Homo sapiens: one gene and its partners. The protein of the gene in region 7 interacts with the protein of the main gene of each other region in a biochemical or structural test. Each region holds a gene or a part of one and is shown on either strand. Other genes may lie near its edges. The genes, in order: LDB3, GRID2IP, RHOA, CARD11, MAST2, MAGI3 and RTKN.

Region 1 (4,380 bases), on a different chromosome or scaffold from region 7:
GGTAGATATGGAAAAGTATGCAGAGAAATATACAAAAAAACAAAAGAGATGAAATTCTTTTTTTTTTTTTTGAGATGGAGTCTCACTCTGTCACCCAGGCTGGAGTGCAGTGGCGCGATCTCAGCTCACTGCAACCTCTGCCTCCCGGGTTCAAGCAATTCTCCTGCCTCAGCCTCCCTAGTAGCTGGGATTACAGGCGCCCACCACCATACTCAGCTAATTTTTTTTGTAGTTTAGTAGAGACAGGGTTTCACCATGTTGGCCAGGCTGGTTTCAAACTCCTGACCCCAAGCAATCCACCTGCTTTGGCCTCCCAAAGTGCTGGGATTACAGGCGTGAGCCACCACGCCCAGCCCAAGAGATGAAATTCTATATCCCCATGATGACAACATATAGTCTGAGGCTGGAGGCATCCCAGAAAGAAGAGAACTAATTAATATTTGTGGGGACTACCATGGACCAAGCAGGATGCCAGACACTCTATATACAGCAGCTCATTTAATTCTCATGAAAACCTTATAAGGTAGGTAAGCCTTTCTCCCACTTCACAGCTGAAAAAACTGGGGCTCAGAGGGCCCATACGTCTTCCTTAAGTCACAGACCTAGTAAGTTGTAGGCTGGGAATCTCTGTCCATGTCTGTAAGACTCCAGTTCTATGCTAATTTTTCCCCTACCCCATAGAAGAAAGGGACTGTGTTTACTTGAAATTGATCTGGGTTCATGGGTTTGTACAGATGTAGCCCTCTGAGTTTGCTGGACTACTAGTATGTAAGCTGGGCCCTGGGTTGGCAATATGCCAGTAGGTCAGAGTCTGCCAGGAAATCACATTGGCTGGCATGGGTCCCAGCTTAGGAGAGGGCAGTGAAGATCCCTGCTGGGGGGCAGAATTGGGAGCCATCTCCAGGACACTGACATCAAGAGGAGTGCACGTGGAGTCCCCACATACAGGTATCCCCCATGGAGACAGAGAAATCACCCCCTTGAGTTGAGCTTGGGGCAATATGCATGTATTCAGTCCAAGAGAGTTGGAGAGGAAAAGGGCACCACGCTAGCCCCATGTGCAAGGCTCTGATGGTCCAGTTGGGGACGTTATACCTAGGATCACACAGGGCTTCCAATTGGGTTCTGGGAGCCAATGAGCTGCAAAAGTGTTTGAAAACATCCCAGGTGGATGCAGTGATGCTGAGTATAACCAGGCTCGTGTGGAGGCCTCAAGCTGCTGGTGACAATTTAAAGACTATGCAAAAAGATGGACATCCAAGATCTAACTGGTGAGAATGGGCTTTAGGGAAGACAGAAAGGCATCTCTGGAATGAGTCAGCCTGTCAATGACTGCAGCTGTGGGTGGGAGACCATACCTGGACTGGGACAATGCTGGTTGCTTGTGAGAACTTTGGGATGAGTCAGGCTGGGGAGAGAAGGTGTCCAGGGACTGAAGACCAACAAATGAGAAAGGGACAGAACCTCAAAGATGGCTCATAGGTGAGATGGGGCTGAGGGTGGGAACCCTCATAAGGAGTTGTGCCCAGTGTCTTCTTGGTGCAAGGTGGCTTCATAGTGGAGGAGGCCTTCTGCCCACCCAGCACAGGGGGCAACAGGGATGGTCCAACCCCCAGGCTCTGTGGCTGGGTGACATCAGGGCCTGGCTATAAAAGGGTAGCGACCATGGACAGTGCTGACTGCAAGTCCCAGCAGAGTTAGGGTAATAAACTAGGCCAGCTGCAGCAGCCCCTAGGTCTGCCTACAAAAGTTATATTACTGCCCATCCCCTCCTGATACCCACACCAGTGGGGAAGGGCAAGACTTAGAGCAAAAGAGGGATGGGTAAGACATTTTTCCTCCACTAAGGTCGGACCCTTTCCATTGGAACTCAAGTGTCGACGCCAGACAGAAGCTTAACTTTCACCCTGACCCACAGTGCACTTCTCAGGCTCCCAGCCTTCACTTTATATGCTTTGGACTTGAGGGATACTGTCCTGTTCTACTTTTGAATTGCTCACATCTGTTGCTTTGTTCACCTTTCAAGATTCTAGATTCCGTCAGGGTAGAGACTTGTTCTGGAACACTCTTGTACTGCCCAAATGCCAGGAATATTTGGTAAACTGAGTTAGTCTAAAGAATGTGCTATCCTGAGATCTCACTGGTTAGAAAACAGCACATCAGCTGGGAGAGCTACCCCAGATCTTTCTCTTACTAATTTTTTGGAAGTTACAGGAAAATACATGCTCATCAAAAGTGATTTGGAAATATGAAGTGATAGAAAGAGGACCAAAAAAAAAAAAATCCCTCAAGTCCCTCAAAGTTTTCCAATCAAAAGATTTCTTCCTAATGTTAAGACCATGTTCCGGCTGGGTGTGGTGGCTCACACCTGTAATCCCAGCACTTTGGGAGGCCGAGGTGGGTGGCTCATGAGGTCAGGAGTTCAAGACCAGCCTGGCCAAGATGGTGAAACCCCGTCTCTACTAAAAATACAAAAATTAGCCAGGTGTGGTGGCAGGCGCCTATAATCCCAGCTACTCAGGAGCCTGAGGCAGAGAATTGCTTGAACCTGGGAGGTGGAGGTTGCAGTGAGCCAAGATCGCACCACTGCACTCCAGCCTGGCGACAGAGCAAGACTTTGTCTCAAAAAAAAAAAAAAACAAAAGAACCATGTTCCACTTTGCTATATGTTGACAGAGCAGTGAGTATCATGCAGGCTGGTTTGGAGGGAGACCTAACGATCTCCATGTTGATCCTCTAAAGGGCAGTGCTATGGGCCTCTCACAGGCTGGACTTCACTCTCTGGAACTTATTTGTAATATCAGCCTTAGCCACCCCAAGCTTTACGCCTTCTTCTGGTCTCTCTCTTGGACTTTTGCTGTTGTGACTCAGCTGAAATTGCGAGGCTTGCAGAAGCAGACCCACACTCACCTTTGCCACGATTCCCTCTGCATGTGACACAGACCTCTCATCAGCCTGCCCATGGAAAACAGGCCTTCTGTGCCACTGTCTTCCTGGACCTTCCCCAAGTCTCTTGGATCCTTCCAGAAGTTGGGTAACCAGATGTGCAGGCAGTGCCTCAGGACTAGACAAGCCATGGCTTGAATGTAAGGTTCAGAGACCCCTGTGCTGTGCCTGACACAGGGGAGCTATGACTCTGCAGGGGACAAACCCAAAGCCAGTATACTTACACCATTGTCTCTTTTTGGAGGGGATGTATTTAAAACACCCTAAAAGACAACTAGAGAATCTGTTCAAAGAGCTAGAAAATCAGAGTGTTAAGGGGTTGAATTGTATTCCACAAAATTCACGTGCAAGAAGGCAGAGTTTGCCGTGAGCTGTGATCACGCCATTGCACCCCAGCCTGGGCAACAAGAGGGAAACTCCATCTCAAAAAAAAAATAAAAAAAAAAAGGAGACCCACACAGAGACAGACACACTCAGAGGAGAATGTCATGTGAAGACACACACAGAGGGGAGACAGGCTTGTGACAATGGAGGCAGGGATTGGAGTTACACAGCTGCAAGCCAAGAAATGCCAAGGATTGCTAGCAACCGCTAGTAGCTCGGAGAGAGACTATGGCCTCCTGTCAGCACCTTGATTTAGGACTTCTGGCCTCCTGAACTGTGAAAGCATTCATTTCTGTTGTTTGAGCCATCAGTTTGCAGTAATTTGTCAAGACAGCCCTAGCAAACCGACACACAGAGTGAATACAGTGTGTCCCACAGATGGCGGGGTATGGAAGCGAAGTGTGGAACCAAAAGTATATGGCCGTAAACTTTATGACTAGGGTCATCCTATGTCAGAAGTCTATAAAAATTATTCAAGTAAAAACTGTACAGATATTTCATACATTTCCAAAATTTACCTTGAGACACTCTGGTTAAAAAAAAAATAGTAGAGGTGTCTTAATTTTCCCAAATCAGCCAGGCGTGGTGGCTCACGCCTGTATTCCCACAACTTGGGGAGGCCAAGGTGGGTGAATCACCTGAGGTCAGGAGTTTGAGACCAGTCTGGCCAACATGGTGAAATCCCCTCTCTACTAAAAATACACAAAATTAGCCAGGCATGGTGGCATGTGCCTGTAGTCCCAGCTACTCAGGAGGCTAAAGCAGAAGAATCGCTTGAACCCAGGAGGCAGAGGTTGCAATGAACCGAGATCATGCCACTGTACTCCAGCCTGGGCAACAAGAGCAGAAACTCTATCTCAAAAAAAAAAAAAAAAAAATTCTCAAATCGAGATTAGGCAATGACAGATTGACATTAGGGGGCTTTCTCAGGGATGACTGTTTCCTACCTCTCCTTCAGAGTCTAAATGTCTGTAGGCTCACCATCATGTGCCCACCCCAACCCAAAACCCTCAGAAGGAAAATGCCAGTCTCATACTAAAAGTGACCCGG
Region 2 (4,380 bases), on a different chromosome or scaffold from region 7:
TTCTTTTTCTTTTTTCTTTCTGTTTTTTTTGAGATGGAGTGTCACTCTTATTGCCCAGGCTGGAGTGCAATGGCATGATCTCGGCTCATTGCAACCTCTGCCTCCCGGGTTCAAGCGACGCTCCTGCCTCACCCTCCTGAGTAGCTGGGATTACAGGCACCCGCCACCACAACCAGCTAATGTTTTGTGTTTTTAGTAGAGACAGGGTTTCTCCATGTTGGCCAGGCAGTCTCGAGCTCCTGACCTCAGGTGATCCACCCGCCTCAGCCTCCCAATGTGCTGGGTTTACAGGTGTGAGCCACTGTGCCCGGCCTGCATGGTTTTCAGTATATCTACTTCTCCATTCCCTGCAGCTTATATAAATGTTCAAGTCTCTCTCAGGCTATAAATAAATAAATAACAAGCTGGGCACAGCAGCTCATGCCTATAATCCCAGAGCTTTGGGAGGACAAGGCGGGAGGATCACTTGAGGCCAGGAGTTGGAGACCAGCCTGGGCAACATAACCAGACCCTGTCTCTAAAAAATGAAAGACAGCCGGGCGCGGTGGCTCATGCCTGTAATCCCAGCACTTTGGGAGGCCGAGGCAGGCGGATCACAAGGTCAGGAGATCGAGACCATCCCAACTGACACGGTGAAACCCCGTCTCTACTAAAAATAGAAAAAAAATTAGCCAGGTGGGCGTGATGGCGGGCGCCTGTAGTCCCAGCTACTCGGGAGGCTGAGGCAGGAGAATGGTGTGAACCCGGGAGGCGGAGCTTGCAGTAAGCCGAGATCGCGCCACTGCACTCCAGCCTGGGTGACAGAGACAGACTCCATCTCAAAAGAAAAAAAAGAAAGAAAAGAAAAAGTAAAAAGTTAGCCAGATATGGTGGTGCACGCTTGTATTCCCAGCTACCAGATACTTGGGAGGCCGAGGTAGGAGGATCTCTTGTGCCCGGGAAATCAAGGCTGCAGTAAGCCATGATCACACCACTGAGCTCCAGCCTGGGTGACAGATCAAGACCCTGTCTCCATAAATAAATAAATAAAAGACAATCCTCCTTTGATCCTGAAAGCTGCTCATTCTCCTCCCTTCTGTAGTCTGGAGCCGTCTACACGTGCTGTTTCTGTACCACTGCCCTTTGCCACTGCAGTTCACTATTGCACTTGAGGCTCTCCACGACCCAGCTCTGGCGAAGAACCCCAGACAGTGACTCTCAGACCTCGATCTTCAGCCGAGAGCTCGCTCTTGAACTCTGGAACTGTATATCCACCCGCTTTCTAGATGATTCCAAAAGGGGAGGAGAAGTAGCGGGAAGCTTCGAGGGTTTCCAGTCAGAGGCCACGTTCTGTACACGTCTGAATCCTAGCACAGATGCACCATGAGTCTGTGTAACCGTCTGTCTCCCCCACCCAGGTGTGATGATCCGGGGTCTCATGCTTGTCCAGCCCCAAGCACAGCGCCTGGCACATATTAGGCACTCAGAGAATGTGGATGGGACTGAATCAAAAAGCAGCCTTGCATTGCACTTCCTGCAGGCCCCAGCTCACCACTGTTTCCCTCCCTGTGAGTGGGCCAGGCTGGCAGCACCAGCCGCCCCCTCCCCACGCACGCGCCGTGCTGGGGAAGGTTGCCAGTTTGGAAATCAAAGTCAGCAGCAACCTCAATTCAAAGGAGAACATGGCTGGCTGCAGAGATGTTTTATGTAAGAAAGAGGAAAAAATAGTTCCTCCCTCCTGGGGCCCGTGCTACAGTGCGGTTTCGGTGTCAGTTATTACCCAGATGTTCTCAGCCTACATCTAAGCATGAGGTATCATCACGGGACACTAATGGATTTTCTATTAAATATCAGCCACTTCAAGGAGGAAAAACTGGGGCAGGCAGAAAGCGCAGGCGAGAACTGGAGGGCTGGTGATTGAAAACCAACCAGTCTGGCGCAGTGGCTCATGCCTGTAATCCCAGCACTTTGGAAGGCAGAGGCAGGTGGATCACCTGAGGTCAGGAGTTTGCGACTAGCTTGACCAACATGGTGAAACCCCATCTCTACTTGAACTCCTGACCTCAGGTGACCTGCCTGCCTCGGCCTCCCAAAGTGCTGGGATTACAGGTGTGAGCCACCGTGCCCAGCCAAGCCACCAAGCCTGGCCTGTCTCTACTAAAAAAAATACAAAATTAGCCGGGCGTGGTGGTACATGCCTGTAATCCCAGCTTCTTGGGAGGCTGAGGCAGGAGAATTGCTTGAACCCAGGAGGCGGAGGTTGCAGTGAGCCAAGATCACGCCATTGCACTCCAGCCTGGGCAACAAGAGCGAAACTCTGTCTCAAAAAAAAAAAAAAAAAGATAGAAAACCAACTGGGCTCCACGGAGGCCCTTCATCTTCCAGAGGAAGTCATTTTTGGAGATTCACTCTCAGCTTTTGTGGGTGCCCAGCGAGCCCTAACCAAAATCCTCCACTTCCCCGTTCCTCCTTGCCAGAAAACACACTGCAGCTGGCCTGGGCAGCCTGTCGGATTCTACCCTCAGCGGGTTGCTGCCCAGCCCTGCTCCTGGGCAGGTCTTCTCTTGCATCCTGCCCTGTTTGGAGCTCTGAACGTGCCCCCTTCCAACTCTGCAGGGATTAGATGGAGTCTGGGATAGACCTTTGGCTCCATGGCAGGTGATCTGGGATTGTAGCAGGCATTACTCGCACTCACCAATATTTCTAGGTCTTCCCTCTTTCCTGGACACACATTAGACTACATTTCCCAGCATCCTTAGGGAGGAGCAGTGTACCTAGTTCTGCCCAATGAGCATTGAGGACAGGTGCTGTTCTAAGAGGAGATGCACAATTTTCCAAGCTCTCTTCCTCTTCCATAGGGAACCCTGAAGCTTCACATAGAGATGGAGGAGTCTGAAATGCTGAGACCTCGTATGGACATCAAGCCACCCTAGAAAGTCTACTGACCCCCTAGAGGACTCTGTGGGTGAAAAGTAAACTTCTGTAGTGCAAACGCACTAAGTTGTTGATTTTGGGTCAGGCACAGTGGCTCACACCTATAATCCCAGCACTTTGGGAGGCTGAGGCAGGAGAATTGCTTGAGGCCAGGAGTTTGAGACTAGCCTGGGCAACATAGCAAGACCTCATCTCCCCAGTCTTTTTTTTTTTTCTTAATCAGCCAGGTGTGGTGGTGCACACCTGTGGTCCCAGCTACTAGAGAGGCTGAGGCAGGAGGATCACTTGAGCCCAGGAGTTGGAGGCTGTAGTGAGCTATGATTGTACCACTGCACTCCAATCTGGGCAACAGAGCTAGACCCTGTCTCAAAAACAACAACAATAAAAAATGTTGGGTTTGTTTGTTATAGCAGCAGAGCCTGTTGTGGGTACAGGAAGAAAGTCACAGCTTTGGAAGATCTGGACTTTGGTGATGTAGGGAAGCTGGAGTTGAGTCCTGTGTGTATGCGAGTGTGTGTATCTGGCCACAGAGGCTGGTCTACTCAGGGTCAGAAAAGCCCATTCAGGGGATCAGGCTAGGGTACATGATGGAGGAGACACTCCTGAGGGGGTTAATTTGGAAGGGGTTAGGACTGGACCAAGCTTGGGCACTGAAGGAGGCCAGAGTGGGTGGGGACCTGATGCCTGGGCAGTGGGCTGGGAGGCATTTCTGCAATAGTCAAACTCCGACAAAGTTTCCAGGCTCCCTGACCTCCCAAACCCCATGGCCAAGTGCTGCTGGGGCAGAACTGAGCAGATTCCCTTCCACGGAGGAAAAGTCTGTGAGCTTGATAACACAACAGGGTGACTATAGCCAATAATAACTTAATTGTCCATTTTAAAATAACTTAGGCCAGGTGCAGTAGCTCACACCTGTAATTCCAGCACTTTTGGAAGGCCGAGGTAGGCAGATCTCCTGAGGTCAGGAGTTCAAGACCAGCCTGGACAACATAGTGAAACCGTGTCTCTACTATAAATACAAAAATTAGCCAGGCATGGTGGTGGGGGCCTGTAATCCCAGCTCCTTGGGAGGCTGAGCCAGGAGAATTGCTTAAACCCGGGAGGCGGAGGTTGCAGTGAGCCGAGATCGTACCACTGTATTCCCTGGGCAACAGAGCGAGACTCTGGCTCCAAAAAAAATAAATACAAACTTAAACGGTGTAGATGGATTGTTTATAACTCAAAAGATAAATGCTTGAGGGGATGGGTACCCCATTCTCCATGACATGCTTATTTCACATTGCATGCCTGTATTAGAGTATCTCAGATACCCCATAAATATATACACGTATTAGGTACCCACAAAAATTAAAAATCAAAATAATGTAAAAAAAGTTGGCCAGATGCGGTGGCTCACGCCTGTAATCCCAGCACTCTGGGAGGCCGCAGCAGATGGATCACGAGGTCAGGAGTTCAAGACCAGCCTGA
Region 3 (4,380 bases), on a different chromosome or scaffold from region 7:
GCTATTTGGGAGGCTGAGGTGGAAGGATCACTTGAGCCCAAGAGTTCAAGGCTGCATGATCATGTCACAGCACTGCAGGCCTGGGAGACAAAGTACAATCCCTGTCTCTTTATTTAAGAGAAAAAAAAAAAAGTATGAGAGGCCAAGCAAAGCATTACTTAGACAACAAAAGGAAGCAGAAGATTAAAAAAAAAAACAAAAACAAACCAAAACCAAAATTAAAACCCAAAAAAACCCTCCAATTTCACAAGAGCTTTGTTCCAGTCTTGCCAGAGGGCTTTTAGGACAGAAATGGGGAAGCACTGTTCTCACCATCAATGACAATAAAATAAAACAACTGTGGCAGGCTATTTTATGTTAAAGTAAAAAAAAATCTTTTGGCCGGGCACAGTGGCTCATGCCTGTAATCCCAGCACTTTGGGAGGCCGAGACGGGCAGATCACAAGATCAGGAGATCGAGACCATCCTGGCTAACACGGTGAAACCCCGTCTCTACTAAAAATACAAAAAATTAGCCAGTCTGGTGGTGGACACCTGTAGTCCCAGCTACTTGGGAGGATGAGGCAGGAGAACAGCGTGAACCCAGGAGGCAGAGCTTGAACTAGTAATCTAATACTGGGACATCTGATTAAATACTTTGACAGAATTTTTGTCAAAGTCCAAGCATACAAAGAAGTTCATCTGAGCATTATCTATATGGCAATGAACTAAACTTCAAATATACGTAAACTTGAAAAGAGCACATATGGCTGGGCAAGGTGGCTCACGCCTGTAATCCCAGCACTTTGGGAGGCTGAGGCAGGTGGATCATCTGAGGTCAGGAGCTTGAGACCAGCCTGGCCAACATGGCAAAATTGCATCTTTACAAAATACAAGTATTAGCCAGGCATGGCGGCGTGCGCCTGTAATCCCAGCTACTCTACTCTGGAGGCTGAGGCAAAAGAATTGCTTGAACCCGGGAGGTGGAGGTTGCAGCGAGCTGAGATTGTACCACTGCACTCCAGCCTGGGCGACAGAGCGAGACTCTGTCTCAAACAACAAAACAAAACAAAAAAAAAACACATATGCTAAGGACACCATGTCAAATACATATGAATGTAAACAAAGTCTGGATGAGTAGCAGTTAAAAATGAAAAAACAGCCAATCACCTGCGGTCAGGAGTTCATGACCAGCCTGGCCAACGTAGTGAAACCCCATTTCTACTAAAAATACAAAAATCAGCCAGGTGTGGTGGCATATTCCCGTAATCCCAGCTACTGGGGAGGCTGAGGCAGGAGAATCCTTTAAACCTGGGGGAAGGCTGGGCACAGTGGCTCACTCCTGTAATCCCAGCACTTTGGGAGGCTGAGGTGGGTGGATCACCCGAGGTCAGAAGTTTGAGACCAGCCTGGTGAAACCCCATCTCTACTAAACGAAAAATGAGCTCAGCATGGTGGCAACATGCCTGTAATCCCTGCTATTTGGGAGGCTGAGGCAGGAGAATCACTTGAACCTGGGAGGCAGAGGTTGCAGTGAGCCAAGACCGAGCCACTGCACTCTAGCCTGGGCAACAGAATGAGACTCCGTCTCCAAAAAAAAAAAAAGAACAAACTTGGACTAAGATGGCAGGATGAGAATGGATTCTTCTTTCCAACATTTTTGTTATATGGTATACTGAAGAGGCAAAAAGCTCTAATTCTCTACATGCTCCATAAATATTCTAACATGGAAAATGGCATCAGTTGTTATGAAAAGTATACTCACCTGCTTTCCATCCACCTCGATATCTGCCACATAGTTCTCAAACACTGTGGGCACATACACCTCTGGGAACTGGTCCTTGCTGAAGACTATGAGCAAGCATGTCTTTCCACAGGCTCCATCACCAACAATCACCAGTTTCTTCCGGATGGCAGCCATTGCTGAAACACAAAACACAGATATTACCTGCAATGCACAAGAAGTCATAGGTAGCTTACAGGATGACACATGCTTTGGTAACCATGGGGCATAAACCTCTATTAGCATACTCAAATTCAAACTTCTAGTACGCCGATCCACCTGGCACCAAAAGGTTATACATTAAAAACTCGTAACTAACATTATACTTAATGGTAAAAGACTGAAAAAAAGGTCTGCCCCCTAAGATCAGGAACAAGACAAGAATGTCTGTTCTTGCCACTTCTTTTTTTTTTTGAGACGGAGTCTCACTCTGTCGCCCAGGCTGGAGTGCACTGGCCCAATCTCAGTTCACTGCAACCTCCAGCCTCCCGGGTTCAAGCAATTCTCCTGCCTCAGACTCCCAAGTAGCTGGGATTACAGGCACGTACCACCACATCCAGCTAATTTTTGATAGAGATGGGGTTTCACCTTGTTGGCCAGGCTGGTCTTGAACTCCTGACCTCAGGTGATCCACCTGCCTCAGCCTCCCAAAGTGCTGGGATTACAGGCGTGAGCCACCACGCCTGGCCTGTTCTTGCTACTTCTATCCAGCAGGATACTGGAGGTCCTAGCCAGGGCAATAAGGTAAGAAAATGAAATAAAAGACATCCAAATTGGAAAGGAAGAAGTAAAACTATCTCAATTCACACATGAGATGATTTTGTAATGTGGGAAATCCTAAAGAAAACTTTTAGAATAAACAAGTTCAGTAAGGTTGCAGGATACAATATTAACATTAAAAAATCAATTGAGCCAGGCGCAGTGGCTCACGCCTATAATCCCAGCACTTTGGGAGGCCGAGGCGGGTGGATCACGAGGTCAGGAGATCGAGACCATCCTGGCTAACACGGAGAAACCCCATCTCTACTAAAAATACAAATAACTAGCCGGGCATGGTGGCAGGCACCTGTAGTCCCAGCTACTTGGGAGGCTGAGGCAGGAGAATGGCGTGAACCCAGGAGACAGAGCTTGCAGTGAGCCAAGATCGGGCCACTGCACACCAGCCTGGGGGACAGAGTAAGACTCCATCTCACAAAAAAAAAAAAAAAAAAAAAGGAAACAATTTGTCAAGCAGGGTAAAAACAATGAAAGGACTGATGAAAGGGAGTACCCAAGGGAGGAAAGAACCAAAAAAGTCATCGGCAGGTTGTTTGGGTAGACATTCTGCAATCTTTCTAAGTTTGGATATTCCTTCTTTTACCAATCTAGATTTGTTTGTAAAGAAACAGCATTCTTGGCTGGGCGCGGTGGCTCACGCCTATAATCCCAGCATTTTGGGAGGCCGAGGCAGGCAGATCACCTGAGGTCAGGAGTTTGAGACCAGCCTGGCCAACATGGAGAAACCCCATCTCTACCAAAAATACAAAATTAGCCAGGCGTGGTGGCACATGCCTATAATCCTAGCTACACAGGAGCAAGAGGCAGGAGAATCGCTTGAACCCGGGAGGCAGAGGTTGTGGTGAGCCGAGATCATGCCATTGCACTCCAGCCTGGGCAACAAGAGCGAAACTCCGTCTCAAAAAAGAAAAATCAATTGAGGCCGAGCACAGTGGTTCATGTCTGTAATCCCAACACTTTGGGAGACTGAAGCAGGAGGAATGCTCAGGCCCAGGAGTTAAGAGACCAGCCCTGACAACATAGTGAGACACTGAGAAAGGAAGGACGGACGGAAGCATGAGAGGGGAGGGGAGAAAGAAAAGGGCCGGGCGCAGTGGCTCACGCCTATAATCCCAGCAATCTGGGAGGCCGAAACAGGTGGACTGCTTGAGAGTCCAGGAGTTCAAGACGAGCCTGGGAAACATAGTGAAACCCTGTCTCTACTAAAAATACAAAAAATTAGCCAGGAGCGGTGGTGCATGCTAATCACAGTTACTTGGGAGGCTCAGGTGGGATAATCCCCTGAGCCCTGGAGGTGGAAGCTGCAGTGAGCTGAGATTGCATCACTACACTCCAGCCTGGGGAACCCCAGTGAGACACTGTCTCTAAAAAAAGAAGGAAAAGAAAAAAAAAAAAATCAGCCAGTTGTGGTAGCATGCACCTGTAGTCCCAGCTACCAAGGAGGCTGAGGTGGGAGGATTGCTTGAGCCCAGGAGGTGGAGGATGTGGTGAGCTATGATTGCATCACTGCACTCCAGCCTGGGTGACAGAGTGGAACCTTGTCTCAAACTCTTATGACTCAACTACAAAAAAGCAGCTTAGGTTGGTGGTCTGGCTCAGGATCTCTTGCAAGGTTGAAATCATAAAGAACTCTTTTTGGGCTGGGCACGGTAGCTCACACCTGTAATCCCAGCACTTTGGGAGGCTGAGGCAAGCAGAACACTTGAGGTCAGGAGTTCGAGACCAGCCTGACCAACCCAGCAAAACCCCGTTTCTACAAAAAATTCAAAACTTAGCCGGGTGTGGTGGTGGGCACCTGTAATCCCAGTTACTCGGGAGACTGAGGCAGGAGAATCGCTTGA
Region 4 (4,380 bases), on a different chromosome or scaffold from region 7:
TCCAACAGCCGGCCTAGGGGAAAGACCAGATCACTCTGTGAGAATACATATCTGATGGAACGCAAGTCTCTGTGGCTGGTCTCATCCTGGACTTGTGTCCTTCAATCAACTCTAAGAAGACAGTCTCCCCACATTCTATCACTTCTGAGTTGTATCTTGGAGCCCAGATGACGTAAATCAAGGTGCCAGGCCCTCCGCAGGGATTTGGTGAGCGTTAGTTTTCTGTTTCTAATAAACTGGTAGAACCAGGATAAATGGAATTGCCGCCCCAGTTTTGAAGAGTTTCCCAACTGACCAGGGCCAAAATGAACCACGTAGGCACCAGGTCTTCTATGACTGAAGGAGGTTGGAAGCACGATAAAAATTATGGAATAATATATGGTTCTCTGGGATTGAGAGCAGGAAGACAAATCTTTGGGTGAGAGGCTAGGAAAAATCATAGGAAGTAGGGATAGTTCTAGGTTTTTCTTTGGGATTATTACACAACCTGGAAACACCTTAAATGTAATTTCCCCAGCAGGTCCCAGTTTCTATACTATTGATTCCACTTATTGCTTACATTTCTGGGCCCTTCCTTAAACATTTTATTTTCAGATATTCTTCTGAGATATAGAAGAAGAAAGGTAGGTCTTAAAACTCGACCTTTTCCCTAGGACGGACAGAAGAAATAAATTTGATGGTATGTCAACCCCGATTGTTTGGTGAAGCCGCCTGCAGTACTGTTTCGAGAAACATTCCAAAGTTACATCCAAGCTCAGTGGGAAAGCATGCTGATTACTGATGTCTGCCATGGATGCCAGAGAGTCGCAGCTGATGAGCCACTTACCACCAGCCACGCTGGGGGACAGTGATTATCAAACCTTCTAAACTGATCCATAGAAAGAAAAACATTTAACATTGTGGTCTAGTGACCATAGACAAAGATAACTCTACAAGTACATGTGTATACACATGTACATAATGTAAAATTAAAACAAGCTTCACAAACCATATTTATTACCTTTACTGAATATGATAAACCCCCCCTCCAGAAGTCAGGCTAGAAAAGCTTGTGGAACCCTTCTCGGAATATTTTTAAACAGATAAAGTACATCAGATTACAAAAGAAACCAATTATAATAAAATCCAGTTATCAAATATTAAATAAATTTGTGTTTCAGTAACATACTTCTTTATTAATGCATTAAATAACAAGACCTCTCGGCAGGTCTAATAAGTACTGTAATTTTGAAAGAGAGATGAGTGTAAGTGGCATTTTGAGAGATTTGCAGTAACTGTAGTGATAGGAAGAGATCTGTAATTTTCATTGTTGCCTAAGTCACAAGAATTACTAATCACTCCTGTAATTTGTGGCTTCCTGACATTTGCAATTGAGGGCAATGCTGAATTGCAGTTGAGGTTGGTAAAATAAAGATGGCATTTCTTCCCCCCTCCCAGTTTATGGATCCTTTGAGTTCCATACACAGACAGCTTGAGTTCTATACACAAATGAGTAGGTGATGGACTGCGGACCCCAGTTTAAAAATCCCTGACCTAGAGCAACTTCATTTTGGTACAGCTACCAAAGGGTATGTCTGGAAGTTGCCGTGTGCGGTAGCCCTCCCTCTCCCGCAAAGAGGTCCTAAGGTTACCTGCTCGGTTGATCTTGGATGGCAGCATAGGGGCATTAAGCACTTCATCTTCATCCTGCTCATCAATGACCTTACACTGACGCAGGTAGGGCGTGAGCTTGGCAGGGTTGATATAGCGGCTGAGCATGTGCCGGTTACACTCCACATTCTCCCACAAGGCGTCCTCTTCATCCTTCAGCGTCTCCATGTAGTCATCCATCTCTGGCCCTCCTCCTTTTAGACATAAACCCCAACAAGCTTAATAAAGCAGTCTCACTGGAACAGCTCTATCAACTCCTCTGGAGTGACCTCTAGAATATATTAAGTTAAAAAAAAGTCCTGTACACTAAAGTATATATAGCATTTTACCTTTTGTCTAAGAAAGGGGTTATGAATATAAAAATATATATTTCCTTATATGCTAAACATAAACAATGGAAGTTTAAGCCATCAATTTTAAAAAAGATTATTTATAGGGCAGAGAGGGAAAATCCTGCGGTTGAGTCTACCCTTTCCATCCAAGTTTTTATGTCTTACTAAAAATGTATAGTTCCCTAAACAATATATACTATTGGCTTTTGTTTTAAAATTTCACATAAATGGTGTCATACTGTACGTTTCCTTTTTCAGCATGTTTTTCTCCCTCTACATTTTTTTTTGAGATTTATCTAGATGGATACATATAGATCTAAGTCATTCGTTTTTAAAAATAGCTTTATTGTGATGTAATTCACATAGCATACAAGTTACCTTTTTAATATGTTCAATTCAATGATTTTAGTATATTCACAGAGCTGTGCAACCACCACCACAATCAATTTAAAATCATTTCCGTCATTTCAAAAAGAAGCTCCTCACCCTTTATTAGCCACTCTCAATTTCCCTCTAATCCCTGCTCCTCCAGCCCTGTGTAACCACTCGTTCACCTTCTGTCTGTATAGATTTGTCTTTTCCGTACATTTTATACAAGTGAAATCCTACAATTTATGGTCTTTCATGTCTGGCTTCTTTCACTCAGCAACTTTTCAAGGTTTGTTCCTGTTGTAGCATGTATCAGGACTTCACTTATTTTAAATTGCTCAGTGATTTTTTCATTGCATGGACATGCCCCATTTTGCTTGTCTGTTCATCCACTAATGGACATTTGAGTTATTTCTACCTTTTGTCTATTATGAACAATGCTGCTATGAACATTCATGTAAAAGTTTTTGTGTGACTGTATGTTTTTATTTCCCTTGGGTAGATACGTAAGAGTGGATTGTTAGGCCATATGGCAACTCTATATTTAACATTTTGAGGAATTGCCAAATTGTTTTCCAAAGCAGCTGCATCATTTTACATTGCCACCAACAAGCCATGAGGGTTTTAATTCCTCCATATTCTTGCTAACAACTTGTTATTGTCTGTCTTTTTTATTACAGCTCTCCTACTGAGTGTGAAGTAGCATCTCATTGTGGTTTTGATTTGCATTTCCCTAATGACTAACGATGTTGAGCATCTTTTCATGTGCATATTGGCCATTTGTGTGCATTGAGAAATGTCTATTCAAATCCTTTGCCCATTTTAAAATTGTGTTGTTTGTCTTTTTATTATTGGGTTGTAGGATTTTGTTATGTATTCTGGATGCAAGCCACTTATCAGATATATGACTTGCAAATATTTTCTCCCACTCTGTCAGTTGTCTTTTCACTTTCTTAAAAGCATTGTTTGTAGCACAAAAGTTTCAAATTTTGAGGTAGTCCAATTTATTTATTTTTTCTTTTTTTCACTTGTGCTCTTGGCATGTATCCGAAACACCATTGTCTAACTCAAGATGATGAAGACTTACTCCTGTTTTTTGCCTTTGAATATTATACCTTAGTTCTTACATTGAGGATGATCCATTTTGAGTTAATTTTTGTGTATGGTGTGAGGTAGGGGTCCAGTTGCATTCTTTTATGTGTGGATGTCCAGTTGTCCAAGCACAGTTTGTTTGAAAAGACTACTCTTTCCCCATTGAATGATCTTGCTACCCTTGTTGACAATCAACTGACCATAAAAGTAAACATTTGTTTTTGCACTATTGATTCTATTCCATTGATCTATATGTGTATCCTTATGCCAGTACTACATTGTCTTGATTACCGAAGATTTGTAGATTTGTAGTAGGCCTTGAAATTGGGAGTATGGGTCTCCCAACCTTGTTCTTTTTCAAGATTGTTTTGGCTATTAGGTGCCTTTTACCTAATTTTAGGATTAGGATGTCAATTTCTGCAAAAAAGGCAGTTGGCATTTTGGTAGTGAATCTGCTGAATATGTAGATCAATTTGGAGAGTACTGCTACCTAACAATATTAAATCTTCTGATCTATGAACAGGGGGATGTCTTTCTTTAAATCTTCTTTAATTTCTTTCAGCAATGTTTCATAGTTCTCAGTGTACAAGTCTTGCACTTCTTTTGTTAAATATATTCCTAAGTATTTCATTAATTTGATGACATTATAAATGGGAGTTTTTTTCTTAATTTCATTTGTGGGATATTCATTGCTGGTCTATAGATATATAATTTATTTTTGTATATTGACCTTGTATTCTGCAACCTTGTGAAATCATTTATTAGTTCTGTTAGTTTGTTAGAGACATCTTATGATAGCCTATATATAAGATCATGTCATTTGCAGATAAAGGTAGTTTTACTTCTGTTTTTCCAATCTGGGTGCCTTTTATTTCTCTTCTTTGCCTAATTGCTCTGGCTAAAATACCTCCAGTACAATGTTAGATAGAAATGTTAA
Region 5 (4,380 bases), on a different chromosome or scaffold from region 7:
CACATTCTTACCTAAACTTTCTGGTGTCTCCAAGTGGCCGTAAGGGTAATGAAAAACTCCAGAGCCGAGAACCCGACACCCTCCATGACCCTGTCACAGCCTACCTTCCAGGCTTACCCCTCAGCACTTCTTCAAACCCACCCTGTGCCCCACTGAATGCTCCTTCCCATGCTCCCGATCTGGGAAACTTAGACTCATCCTTCAGTTTGCTGAATAAGCCTCACGTCCCCCAGGGAGCATTCACTGAATGTTCCTTCCAGGGAAGACTAAAGCACTTCCTTTTCCAGGTTCCCGTTACGCTGTGTACTGACCTCAACTGCAACACTTCTTGCAGTATTGTAATTACTATTTACATGTCCTCATGCCTCATGCTTCCCAACTCCACTGTAGAGGAAACATCCCAAGATCAGAGACTGTGCTTTATTCATGTCTGTATCTCCAGTGTCTAGCAGGAAGTAGGTACTCAGTCAAGTATTGCTGAAGATAAAATGAAGGACTCAACTTGTACAAACTAAACTGGGCTATGCTCCTGACGCTTCTCACCCCCAAGACCCCCACTGATGTGAGCCCTGCTCATGTGGGGGTGGCCTAGACTAATAATTCTCCCTGCCGCATCCCCTCAGGACCATACATTTGTCCTCACAAAAACCTGTTTAGTCCCCCAATGGTGGCAAATCATATTTAAATAAGGACCTAAGCAACAGAAATGGCAGTGGTTACCACCACAGTTTTGCTGTCATCAGGATACTTCCTCTATAGTCCTCCTCTAAATCTGCCCACCTGACTTTCCTAGAGTCCACTCACCAGGCATTCCAGGAGACGTGCTGGGCGGGCAATGATAATCATCAGCTTTTTCACCAGCTGCATCACAAAAGCCACTTCTGAGCTCTCTGAGCGCTCATGAGCCTATAGAGAAAAGAAGCGTTGCTTAATCTATTGGCCCAGTGTGGCTGGGCTAAGCAGGACCAGACAGGGCAGAGCTGACTCCAGGGAGAAACAATTCGGTAGCATAGAGAGCTCCGCAAAGCAAGGAACTCAGAGAAGGCTGGCTGGCTGTGAGAGGGAGCGAGTTGCTCATAGGGAACCATTTCTGCTTTAGAACACTACATGACACCAAGAAATGCCACACAGACATACAGCTGTACCTGCTCCTCCATCCAACAAGCCTCACTTACCCTCCAGACCCTAGCTCAAGGGGCAGCTCTCAATGGTGCCTTCACTGATGTTCACTTTCCACCCTAGACTGTAAGGAGTAGAAAGACCTCAAAGCTGAGGAGTCATATGACCAGAAAGTACTTCAGAAGGATCACTCTGGCTGCAGTGTAGAGAGTACACTAAAGAGGGCAAGGCTAAATGCAGGAAAACCCATTAGCAGGCAACTCTAATAATTCAGATGAAAAAGGCATAGGTCAAGGCAGAAGAATGCAGACAAGGGGATAGACGTGGGTTACTACAGAAGCAGATAAGGGGTGAAAGAAGCACGACAGAAGGCAACTACAACTTCAATTTTAGGAAAATTACAATGAATAAGTGAAATAGTAACTATAAGAAGCCATTTAGGTGATAGGTAAAGAATGTACTGCATTTGGTTTTAGAGAAAGAACAGCTAGGCAGAAAAGATAAGCTCAGTTCTGGGCGTGCAGTTTCAGGCACCTATATGAGAGTCTCTTGGGTATCTGCTTGGCCGATGGGCCTTTCTCTTTTTTCCTGAGAACTGCTCTGGTTTCTAGGAGCCACATTTGTACTGTGTGTCTGTACCTTCCCTCCCACCTCTAATAGCTGACCAGAGAGGATCACTTTCCTAGGAATTTAAAAAAGGATAGAAAGACAACTGTTAACGTCAGTGTGGCAGAACCGTTTAAGAACTGTGAAAAGAGATGCATACCTACCATGGAAATAGAGGAAAAGATGCATACAGAAAAAGGAAGAATGAAGACTTCCTGAGCTTCCTGGAGCTTCTGGTTTCTAGTTCTGGTTCCTTCTTAAGGCCTGGTTATATCCCTCGCTTCAATTCTCTAAGACCTACTCCTTTTACTCTTATAATGTTTCCCTTTACTGTTTAAACTATTCTGAATCAGTTTCTATTACGTGCAACCAAAGAATAAGAACCAATATAGGGAAGTCAAAGTGGAGGAGTCCAGCAGGCAGCTGGGTGCACTGATCTGAAGCTCAGGAGAACAGTAAGAGTGGCAGCCACATGTGGGAGTCCTCAGCGTAGAGATGACAACTGAAGACATGGGAGCAGGTGGCAAGACATCAGAGAGAGAGTGGAGGAAAGAGAAAGGGGAGACCAGGCATGCCGGATGGTGCCCTGTGACACACCAGTAGGAAGAGGTGGGCAGCAAAGGAACTTGTGAAGAGGCAGCAAGAGTGGTGAGAACAGTGAATTGACAACTGGGGAAGGAAGTTTAGGAAGTATTCACTGTGCTCCACCGAGAGGTGGCAGAAGATGGGAACTGAAAGTGGCCACAGGATTTGGCAATTGGCCAGTGAGTTCCTTGGTGAATTTTGCCTGAACAGTTTTGGTAGACTGGTGGGAAGGGAAACTGGAAGGCAGAAGATTGAGTAGTAAATAGGATACAAGGAAAGAAAAACAGTAAATGCTATTGTGAATAGTGCCGCAATAAACATACGTGTGCATGTGTCTTTATAGCAGCATGATTTATAGTCCTTTGGGTATATACCCAGTAATGGGATGGCTGGGTCAAATGGTATTTCTAGTTCTAGATCCCTGAGGAATCGCCCCACTGACTTCCACAATGGTTGAACTAGTTTACAGTCCCACCAACAGTATAAAAGTGTTCCTATTTCTCCACATCCTCTCCAGCACCTGTTGTTTCCTGACTTTTTAATGATTGCCATTCTAACTGGTGTGAGATGGTATCTCATTGTGGTTTTGATTTGCATTTCTCTGATGGCCAGTGATGGTGAGCATTTTTTCATGTGTTTTTTGGCTGCATAAATGTCTTCTTTTGAGAAGTGTCTGCTCATGTCCTTCGCCCACTTTTTGATGGGGTTGTTTTTTTCTTGTAAATTTGAGTTCATTGTAGATTCTGGATATTAGCCCTTTGTCAGATGAGTAGGTTGCGAAAATTTTCTCCCATTTTGTAGGTTGCCTGTTCCCTCTGATGGTAGTTTCTTTTGCTGTGCAGCAGCTCTTTCGTTTAATTAGATCCCATTTGTCAATTTTGGCTTTTGTTGCCATTGCTTTTGGTGCTTTAGACATGAAGTCCTTGCCCAAGCCTATGTCCTGAATGGTAATGCCTAGGTTTTCTTCTAGGGTTTTTATGGTTTTAGGTCTAACGTTTAAGTCTTTAATCCATCTTGAATTAATTTTTATATAAGGTGTACGGAAGGGATCCAATTTCAGCTTTCTACATATGGCTAGCCAGTTTTCTCAGCACCATTTATTAAATAGGGAATCCTTTCCCCATTGCTTATTTTTCTCAGGTTTGTCAAAGATCAGATAGTTGTAGATATGCAGCGTTATTTCTGAGGGCTCTGTTCTGTTCCATTGATCTATATCTCTGTTTTGGTACCAGTACCATGCTGTTTTGGTTACTGTAGCCTTGTAGTATAGTTTGAAGTCAGGTAGCATGATGCCTCCAGCTTTGTTCTTTTGGCTTAGGATTGACTTGGCGATGCGGGCTCTTTTTTGGTTCCATATGAACTTTAAAGTAGTTTTTTCTAATTCTGTGAAGAAAGTCATTGGTAGCTTGATGGGGATGGTGTTGAATCTATAAAAATTACCTTGGGCAGTATGGCCATTTTCACGATATTGATTCTTCCTACCCATGAGCATGGAATGCTCTTCCATTTGTTTGTATCCTATTTCACTGAGCAGTGGTTTGTAGTTCTCCTTGAAGAGGTCCTTCACGTCCCTTGTAAGTTGGATTCCTAGGTATTTTATTCTCTTTGAAGCAATTGTGAATGGGAGTTCACTCATGATTTGGCTGTTTGTCTGTTATTGGTGTATAAGAATGCTTGTGATTTTTGTACATTGATTTTGTATCCTGAGACTTTGCTGAAGTTGCTTATCAGCTTAAGGAGATTTTGGGCTGAGACAATGGGGTTTTCTAGATATACAATCATGTCATCTGGAAACAGGGACAATTTGACTTCCTCTTTTCCTAATTGAATACCCTTTATTTCCTTCTCCTGCCTCATTGCCCTGGCCAGAACTTCCAAAACTATGTTGAATAGGAGTGGTCAGAGAGGGCATCCCTGTCTTGTGGCAGTTTTCAAAGGGAATGCTTCCAGTTTTTGCCCATTCAATTCAGTATGATATTGGCTGTGGGTTTGTCATAGATAGCTCTTATTATTTTGAGATACATCCCATCAATACCTAATTTACTGAGAGTTTTTAGCATGAAGGGTTGT
Region 6 (4,380 bases), on a different chromosome or scaffold from region 7:
TAGAGGTTAAAGCATCAGGGCAGAAATGCTGCCCCATTATAACAGTTTGCTACCTGTACAGGATTTGTCTTATATGATGTGTTTTGCAACTGCAGTTTCCTGAGTGATGATATAAGATGAGTTCATCATTAGCAGTTCTCAGCCTTCAACCTCCCCAACCTCCACCCCTCAACTTGCTGGGACACATAACAAGCTGTCCACATGAATAGCAAACACTTCTGGGCATAGACAGGGTCATATGAAATTCCTGACAAATGGCCAATTAACCTACACCTTTTTCTGCTCTTCAAGGATGACATCAGAACTTGAGAATGACACAAAGTCCTAACTGATTTTTTAAAAAGGGCATATTTTTTGCCATAATTTGGTACAAACCATCGTTAATAATAACCACAACACACTGCAGTCATGTCCATATTTATAAGGTCTCTTTCTGGCTGAAAATTCACATGGTTTTAAGAATATGTTTTTTTCTTTTTTTTTTTCAAAATGCATAGTTAGAATGTATTAGCTAAAATGTCTCCAATAATACCAAACTACTATGAAACTTCTTCATGATTCTTTCCAGGGAAGAGCGTAGGTTGTATAACATCACAATTTTACTGTAAGTAGTTACATTTGGCCTCCAACACAACCAAATTGAGGCAGTACTGCATTACAATCTATATGCATTCTAAATGCCTGGTATTTACCAAAGGAGGCAGGCCTTTACTTTGAATGTTGCAATAAAAAATACAGTGCCTCATTTTTAAGAGTGATGTAAATATTCATCCAATTAACAACATTTATTAATGTCCACTTTGTACCAGACAGGCACTCTTTTAGGTGCCGAGCTTACAGCAGATAACTACACAAATAAAAATTCATACCTTCATGAGGCTTATATTCTTGTGCTACAGAGTTGTATTTTTTTAATTTTAAAGTGGAAAGAATTCACTTATAAGAATTTCTATTTAATTATTCATAAAGCTACTGGCGAGAAACTATAAGAGATATTCATATCCTAATGCTATGGTTTAAACCCTGATCTCTGAATTAAACTGCAACTTTTAATCCAGGCCCTACCTCTTACCAGTTATTTGTTTCTCAACCTTTCTCTGAGTAATCATAGAACTAGATAATGACCTCATAGTGTTGTGAAGATTAAATAAAATAATCCATGCATCTAGGACATAGTAAGCACTCAATAAATGTTAAATTATACTAAAACTTCTCAAGTAGAAACATCCTACTTTCCTTTAGTAGCTCAGATTTCACTGGGATCCAAAAATCTTTGTATATTCAGCTAGTGGGATATCTTGGTATGACTAAATAATTTTGTATTTGTTATTTAAAAAAAAACAAAACAAATTTAGGCTGGGCACAGTGGCTCACGCCTGTAATTCCAGCACTTTGGGAGTCTGAGACAGGTGGATCACTTGAGGTCAAGAGTTCGAGACCAGCCTGGCCAATGTGGTGAAACCCCGTCTCTACTAAAAATACAAAAATTAGCCGTGTGGTGGTGTGTGCCTGTAATCCCAGCTACTCAGGAGGCTGAGGCAGGAGAATCGCTTGAACCCAAGAGGTGGAGGTTGCAGTGAGCTGAGCTCATACCACTGCACTCTAGCCTGGGTGACAGAGTGAGACTCTACCTCAACTCAACAAAACAAAACAAAACCGGATTTAAATCAATACTCCCACCTATAATACATTTGCAAAATGCATCAATATATGAAAATAATCTTAATATAGAAGCCCAAAATTTATTTTTTTATAGTAGTATTATTTCTGAATCCTTTTGTGTTTGCATAGCCTTCCACAGTGAGGCCCTGGATCACACCAAATGGGTTATCTTAGATACTACTGAATGTAATAAAATAACCTGCAAAACTACACAGGAAGTAGACTAGTATCTTTGTTTCTTTTTTAACTTTTCAGAGCAGGAACAAGTTCACACACCTCCATAGAAGATCTTCCGTCTGACAGTTAGTAACACATGGCCATTTCGAGCAGCAGTTGTCATGAGGTCCAAGACTTGTTTGTGTGATTTCCCTTTAACAGGAATTCCATCAATGCACATTAGTTCATCAGCTGCGCGGAGCCGACCATCTTTCTCAGCTGCTCCCAGGGGAATAATAGCCCCAATATATATCTGATAAGATAACAAAGTACAGTTTGGTCCACAGTGTAAAGTTTAGCTGAAGAGTTAAGGAATTCCTAACTTAGCATTGTGCAAACCAACAGATTTTTGCAGTTCAACTATGAAAACAGTTATATTTTAGAAAGGTATTATCTGAGAAAGTGCCCATTCTCCAAAATGGCACTTCAAATAACCACATTGTATTATGTAATCCCTTATAGATCCTCAGGGCTGTGTACAAAGAAAATAGAAAATACAAAGTTGTTCGATAACTCAAAAAGCACAACCATTATCCCTATCATTACAATGAAACAAAACACTAAACTCAGAAAATATAAATCTGCAGAGTAGCTATTAAAAGTCTGTTCAATGTCATCAGGCAAGATTTTCTACATACTGTTCACAGCAACTGGGATCATTCTCAACAGTACTCCCATCACATATGACTAACGGTACAAGTTCAATATACACAGCACAGAGACATTTCTTGTTTCTAAATCTCAGCGGGAACAGAGTGGCCTGAAGCTTCACTTGCATCTAGGTGAACAAATCTGGTTCATTTTGCTCACCAGCATTAGAATCCTGTAATTAGGCAATCCTGAATGTTTAGGCTAGTTTCAGAGCTGCTAAAATCTGACATTTAAGAGAAAAGAAAGGTTTCTTCTAAGTTGTTTGAGACAAATTCTTAAAATGTCTAAGTGAACATTATGAGTATCAACAAAATAGGAAGCAATAAAACAAAAATACAAATACCAAGAACAATTAAAGTATCTAGTATTTGTTCTACATAGGGCAACCTGCCTTAAGCTTTATGTGTCTCCAATGACTGTTGTAACTGTAACCAATATGACCAATTAGAACAAATTTATACTACATAAATCAAATGTTCTATTCAGAAATAAGAAGCCTGTAATTTTTAAAGATTATTGTTCTTCACCTAACTTCCAACCATATTTTTTGATATATAATATATTGATATTATATAAAATAAAATGCAAATATGTTCTTAAAAATGCTACAGAACACATTACTTCTTTGTTATTCAAACCAAGAGCAAAACTTAGAAACAAAACCCACTACATTTGTTCTCTAAAACAAGTTTATGTGAGAATCATGTGTAAACAAAATCCTAGACTTCAAATGCTTTGCAAATATAACCCTTATGCCTCTGGACAAAAATATTAATTATTTTATATTCCTCTAGTTTCAAAGGTAACAGATGAAATGACATGCAAAGTACTGAGCATGAAAATGCCAACCTATTAATAAGACGAGGTGAAACAATATGCACAGGCTCATGCCAACCATTTATGGAGCATCCAGAAGATAGAGTAATAGTGGGAAAGAGGACATGGGATTATAGGCTTCTTAGAGAAGGAAAATGTCTTAGACTCTGTTTAATGAGGGCAAAGGAAAATATAAACTTAAAATAAGCTTTATGTAGTTATTCACACAGAGAAGTAAATAAATTAATCACTGTCTAATTTGCAGCTGACATATTCAGTTTTTACCCACAGTTTTTAGCCTCAGCTACACCACAATAACTGAGGGACTATGATAATAATGGAAATGCAGTTATTCTTCATATTAATGAAACTGTCAGAGAAAAAAAAACTTAAAACACACCATAATCCACCAAATCACCACTCAAAACGTTTGAACAGGAAACAGCCATGTTCCAAAGAAGTGACACTTACAGACTGGTCAGGTCCATCTCCTCCTAGCACCCTGAAGCCAAACCCTGACTCTTGTTTTCGAAGAAAAACATCCAAATCTTTGGTGTTTGGTGCTGAGGAAAATCAGAAAATATAAATACTATGATTTATTTTAAAAGGATTAAAACAAAACAAAGTTCAGTATTTAGTAGGATATTATAGAGTAACTCAATAAACTATAATCTCAGAACTTTTTAATATGGAAAATTTGCACAAGAGTGTAACACACACACACAATTCAACTATAAATCCTCGTTTTGAGCTCTAAACAAAACTGTATGAAGACTGTTTAGAAACATTTACTCTCACTTCCATATACTCAGTATTACACTGCCATTAACTTCTAATGCTGTCCAATCAATATAACAATGTTGAATTCAGAATGATCAAACTTGAGTTTGATATTTGACAGGTGCAAATGACCTAAGTTAACACTTGGGTAAGGTACATTAAATCTGTACAGGCACTGCTGTATAGAGTGCCTGTAAAATACCTTATTCCTGCTCTCAAGCTAATACCTTTCTCTCAGAAAAGTATTCCATATGA
Region 7 (4,380 bases):
TAATTACTGACTTAGTAGAGCCTTAAGCTAAATGATGTGGCACTAATGGCAATGTGTTTAGCTGCCAGGCACTTGGGGTGTACCTCAAATCACCTGTGTGGGCTGTGTGAGGACTTTGGCAGGACAGAGTCTGTCCATGCTGCCTCTCAGAGGCTGTCCCCCCACCAGCTTGCCCTTCCTCTAGCTTCATGGGATAGCCATACAGTGGGTTTTCTGCCTTCTTCTGGTAGCTTCATGGGTGAGCTCCTGGCAACCTCCTCTTGTGTCAGCCTTCATGGCTGGAATGGGCACCATACCTGTGAGGGGCTGGGACTATTTCCCCTAGCAGCCTCAGTGGAGTAAGTAGGCCACTTTCCTAAAAACCAGTTCTCCAAATGACCACTTTATCCAAATTGGCATATTCTTAGAATAATTTGCCAAATATTTTCCCCAATATTTTGGTTTTATCATGGCATCACTTAAGTCATTATAGACTTGTCAGATCAACAGTCTAATGTCAGTGTTGCTTACATTTTACATCCAGAAGCTGAGCCCTTTTAGAATGCACAATCTAATTTGTTTGAATGGGTAGGCTTTCCTTAAGTGGTTTCTTATTTCCTTTCCCACTCCCTGCCTCTGAAGGTGAACCCCAGATATAACAAACTATTGTCAGTATGTGGTAAATTGGTGATTTTGTGAACCAGCGTTGAGGAAATTAATTTTCCAAAAGCCAGATAGCCAGTCTTACTGGATCACAGACAGGGCTTAGCAAATTAGTGCTTTTGCATTACTTGCTACCCTTCAGATCAGCTACCTTTCACCAGACACACCGACTTTTCTAAGTCCTGCCCTGGCTACTCACAAATGCGCCTCTGGGCAACACACAGTGGTGGTAAAACACCAAGGTCTCTCCCAGGTCCCTGATAAGACTTCATGGGGAAGTCATCTTTAAGGTGGTCCACATGCCACACACGCACATGCTGCACCACCACCACCCAGAAGGCCTCCTGCCTCCATCGAGGCCTCGTCTCCCCCTTGCTCACCGCCGGCTTGTCTTCCCCAGCACCTGCGCCTCCTTGCGCCGCTGCAGCTCGCCCATGTAGCTGAGGATGCGGCTGTTGCACACTAGCAGGCTCTTGGTGGCCTCCAGAGCCTGCTCTCGCTGGGAGCAGGCTGCCAGCAGCTTACAGGCCCCTTCCCTCATCCGGATCTCATGGTCTAGCTTCCTCTGCAACTCCGTGTCCTAGCCAGGGTTGGGGGAAGGGTGAGAAGGAAATGTCAGTCAGTGGACAGGCTAAAGCACTCCCCAGTCCCCAGGTGGGCTGTGGCCAGTAAAACTGACAAGAAACTAATGTTTTAGGCAGTTCAAGAGCAGGCATTGGGTCTCAATCTCAGCTGCCCACGAATAACCAGAGAAGCTTTGTAGCCAGGTGCAGTGGTGTGTGAGGGAGGCTGAGGTGGGAGGATCCCTTGAGCCTAGGAGATCAAGGCCAGCCTGGGCAACATAGTGAGACCCCACCTCTAAAAAAATATATAACAGCCGGGCACGGTGGCTCACGCCTGTAATCCCAGCACTTTGGGAGGCAGAGGCAGGCGGATCACAAGGCCAGGAGATCGAGACCATCCCGGCTAACACGGTGAAACCCCGTCTCTACTAAAAATACAAAAAATTAGCAGGGCGTGGTGGCGGGCGCCTGTAGTCCCAGCTACTTGGGAGGCTGAGGCAGGAGAATGGCATGAACCCGGGAGGCGGAGCTTGCAGTGAGCCGAGACTGCACCACTGCACCCCAGCCTGGACGACAGAGCAAGACTCTGGCTCAAAAAAAAAAAAAACATATATATATATATATAAAACAAATAAGAAAAATAGAGATGCCCTCATGCATTTGATGGTTGGAAGTATAAATTCCTTCAGCCTCTTTTGAGTGCAATTTGGAAAAAAATCTATGAAAACTACAAATTCATATATCCTTTAATTCAGCTATCCAATACCTAGCAGTTTATCTTACACATATAATTTCACATATATCTAGGTAAAGCCATACATACAAAAATATTCAGTGCGGCATTTTTTTTTTTTTTTGAGACGGAGTCTCGCTCTGTTGCCCAAGCTGGAGTGCAGTGGTACGATCTCAGTTCACTGCAAGCTCCACCTCCTGGGGTTCATGCCATTCTCCTGCCTCAGCCTCCCAAGTAGCTGGGACTACAGGCGCCCGCCACCACATCCGGCTAATTGTTTTTTTGTATTTTTAGTAGAGACGGGGTTTCACAGTGTTAACCGGGATGGTCTCGATCTCCTGACCTTGTGATCCGCCCACCTCGGCCTCCCAAAGTGCTGGGATTACAGGCGTGAGCCACCGCGCCCGGCCTCATTGTGGCATTGTTTTAAACACCAAAATTAAAACCCCTTCAGTAGGACATTGGTTAAATAAGTAACAGTACATCTGTACCCTGTAGTATTGCAGACATTAAGGAAAGAGATATGCACATGTATGCAGATATGAAACAATCTCCAAAATAAATGATGTGAGAAAAGAAGGGTAGTATTGCACATACTACCATTTGTGCATGATATATATATATGTATGCATGCATATATATACATAGATATAGATATGCATGTTTATGCATAAAATATTAGTGATTGTAGGCCTGGGAGCCAGGGATGGAAAACATTTATGATACTTTTTTTTTTTTGAGACCGAGTCTCACTCTGTCACCCAAGCTGGAGTACAGTGGCGCGATCTCAGCTCACTGCAACTTCCACCTTCCAGGTTCAAGTGATTCTTGTGCCTCAGCCTCCTGAGTAGCTGAGATTACAGGCATGTGCCACCACGCCCGAGTAAGTTTTGTATTCTTTTTTTTTTTTTTTTTTGAGACCGAGTCTTACTCTGTTGCCCAGGCTGGAGTGAAGTGGCATGATCTCGGCTCACTGCAAACTCCGCCTCCCAGGTTCAAGCAATTCTTCTGCCTAGCCTCCGGAGTAGCTGGGATTACAGGTGTGAGCCACCACACCCAGCTAATTTTTGTATTTTTAGTAGAGACGGGGTTGCACCATGTTGGCCAGGCTGGTCTCAAACTCCCGACCTCAGGTGATCCACCCGCCTTGGCCTCCCAAAGTGCTGGGATTGCAGGTGTGAGACACCATGCCTGGCCTAACTTTTGTATTCTTAGTAGAGACAGGGTTTCGCCATGTTGGCCAGACTAGTCTCGAACTCCTGGCCTCAAGTGATCCTCCCACCTCGGCCTCCCAAAGTGCGGGATTACAGGCTTGAGCCACTGCGCCCAGCCTAATGATACTTTATATATACCCTTTGTACTACTGGAAATTGTATTTCCTTTAAAAAATATTAGATCTTTGGAGTTTAAAAAAAAATGATCAGGCCCTACCTAAGATTTGCAGAATAAGAATCTCTAGGAGTGGGGCATATGTACTTTTGGAAAACTCCCCAAGTGATTCTGAGGTACACCCAGGTTGAGAACCACCAACTCATGGGAATGGACAGAAGGAAAGGCAAATGAGAGTTATCCCTCAGACTCAAGTGATGCCAGGGACATCTAGTTGGCAAGGGATCAGTGGACAAGGAGCATACCACCTACAGTGTTCACTGACGCTGCACAGAAACCTATACACCCCAAATTAAGAGAATCACCACCTACCGGCCCTCTGAGCTTGGGAGATGAGGTCAGAGGCAAGGAATGGGGATGGGAAGGTAGGTGGTCCAGGAATGAGGGACTGTGGATAAGGGCCAGCTGAGAGGCCCTGGAAGAGACACCAGGATTCTCAGGAACATTCATTTAGAAAGGAGCCCTGGAGGTCCTGCTTCTTAAAAAGCAATGGGCAATTTGCTCAACCTCCCTAAGCCTCAGTTTCCCCATCTGTAAATCAGGAATGGAAATAGTCCTAGGGCTGTGAGAATTCTGTGAGGCAGGAACTTAAAGCACTTAGCACAGTGCCCAGCATGTGGTATACATTAATGGCAGGGATGCTTATTTTAATGACGCTATACTTTGGTGGTAGCAGCATTTACTCAGTCAACACTGGAGCATCCCTGTACTGTCCAAGGTTGTACATTTAAAATCCAGCTGGGAGGTGAGAGATGATGACTTTAATGGCTGCTCCATAAGTGCCATGTCATGGCACAACCATGCTCACAAGAAACAGCCTCTGTTTGCTTCTGGCTGAGGTGATCAAGGAAAGCTTCAGAGAGGAGTTGGAAGACTAACTCTATCACAGTGTACAGATTGGTTCAGGAGACAAGTCGAGCCATCCATTTGAAACAGGGGAACTAATGTGACCACTCCAAACCTGTCTTTTTCCTCACACCAGCTCTCCTCCATACACTGTGCCCTTGCATCTGTCCCTAGTGGCTCCAGCCTTCAAGTCTCTCAGACCCGAAC

Evidence for each region.
Region 1: the proteins of RTKN (region 7) and LDB3 interact in a test that uses a peptide from one of them, tested with the Homo sapiens proteins (one large-scale study listed by IntAct).
Region 2: the proteins of RTKN (region 7) and GRID2IP interact in a test that uses a peptide from one of them, tested with the Homo sapiens proteins (one large-scale study listed by IntAct).
Region 3: the proteins of RTKN (region 7) and RHOA form a complex in vitro, tested with the Homo sapiens proteins (8 studies listed by BioGRID).
Region 4: the proteins of RTKN (region 7) and CARD11 interact in a test that uses a peptide from one of them, tested with the Homo sapiens proteins (one large-scale study listed by IntAct).
Region 5: the proteins of RTKN (region 7) and MAST2 interact in a test that uses a peptide from one of them, tested with the Homo sapiens proteins (one large-scale study listed by IntAct).
Region 6: the proteins of RTKN (region 7) and MAGI3 interact in a test that uses a peptide from one of them, tested with the Homo sapiens proteins (one large-scale study listed by IntAct).

Annotation. Positions count from the first base shown.
Region 1 is NC_000010.11:86,726,846-86,731,225, reverse strand, and holds part of LDB3 (LIM domain-binding protein 3), read right to left. Parts: intron 1-4,380. UniProt on the Homo sapiens protein: May function as an adapter in striated muscle to couple protein kinase C-mediated signaling via its LIM domains to the cytoskeleton.
Region 2 is NC_000007.14:6,544,267-6,548,646, forward strand, and holds part of GRID2IP (delphilin), read right to left. Parts: intron 1-4,380.
Region 3 is NC_000003.12:49,373,690-49,378,069, forward strand, and holds part of RHOA (transforming protein RhoA isoform 1 precursor), read right to left. Parts: intron 1,903-4,380; 5' UTR 1,901-1,902; coding exon 1,745-1,900; intron 1-1,744. UniProt on the Homo sapiens protein: Small GTPase which cycles between an active GTP-bound and an inactive GDP-bound state.
Region 4 is NC_000007.14:2,945,944-2,950,323, forward strand, and holds part of CARD11 (caspase recruitment domain-containing protein 11), read right to left. Parts: intron 1,845-4,380; coding exon 1,632-1,844; intron 1,145-1,631; exon of another isoform or gene 654-1,144; intron 14-653; coding exon 1-13. UniProt on the Homo sapiens protein: Adapter protein that plays a key role in adaptive immune response by transducing the activation of NF-kappa-B downstream of T-cell receptor (TCR) and B-cell receptor (BCR) engagement.
Region 5 is NC_000001.11:46,016,122-46,020,501, reverse strand, and holds part of MAST2 (microtubule-associated serine/threonine-protein kinase 2), read right to left. Parts: intron 907-4,380; coding exon 805-906; intron 1-804. UniProt on the Homo sapiens protein: Appears to link the dystrophin/utrophin network with microtubule filaments via the syntrophins. Phosphorylation of DMD or UTRN may modulate their affinities for associated proteins. Functions in a multi-protein complex in spermatid maturation.
Region 6 is NC_000001.11:113,648,765-113,653,144, reverse strand, and holds part of MAGI3 (membrane-associated guanylate kinase, WW and PDZ domain-containing protein 3), read right to left. Parts: intron 3,909-4,380; coding exon 3,817-3,908; intron 2,132-3,816; coding exon 1,939-2,131; intron 1-1,938.
Region 7 is NC_000002.12:74,431,445-74,435,824, forward strand, and holds part of RTKN (rhotekin), read right to left. Parts: intron 1,223-4,380; coding exon 1,023-1,222; intron 1-1,022. UniProt on the Homo sapiens protein: Mediates Rho signaling to activate NF-kappa-B and may confer increased resistance to apoptosis to cells in gastric tumorigenesis. May play a novel role in the organization of septin structures.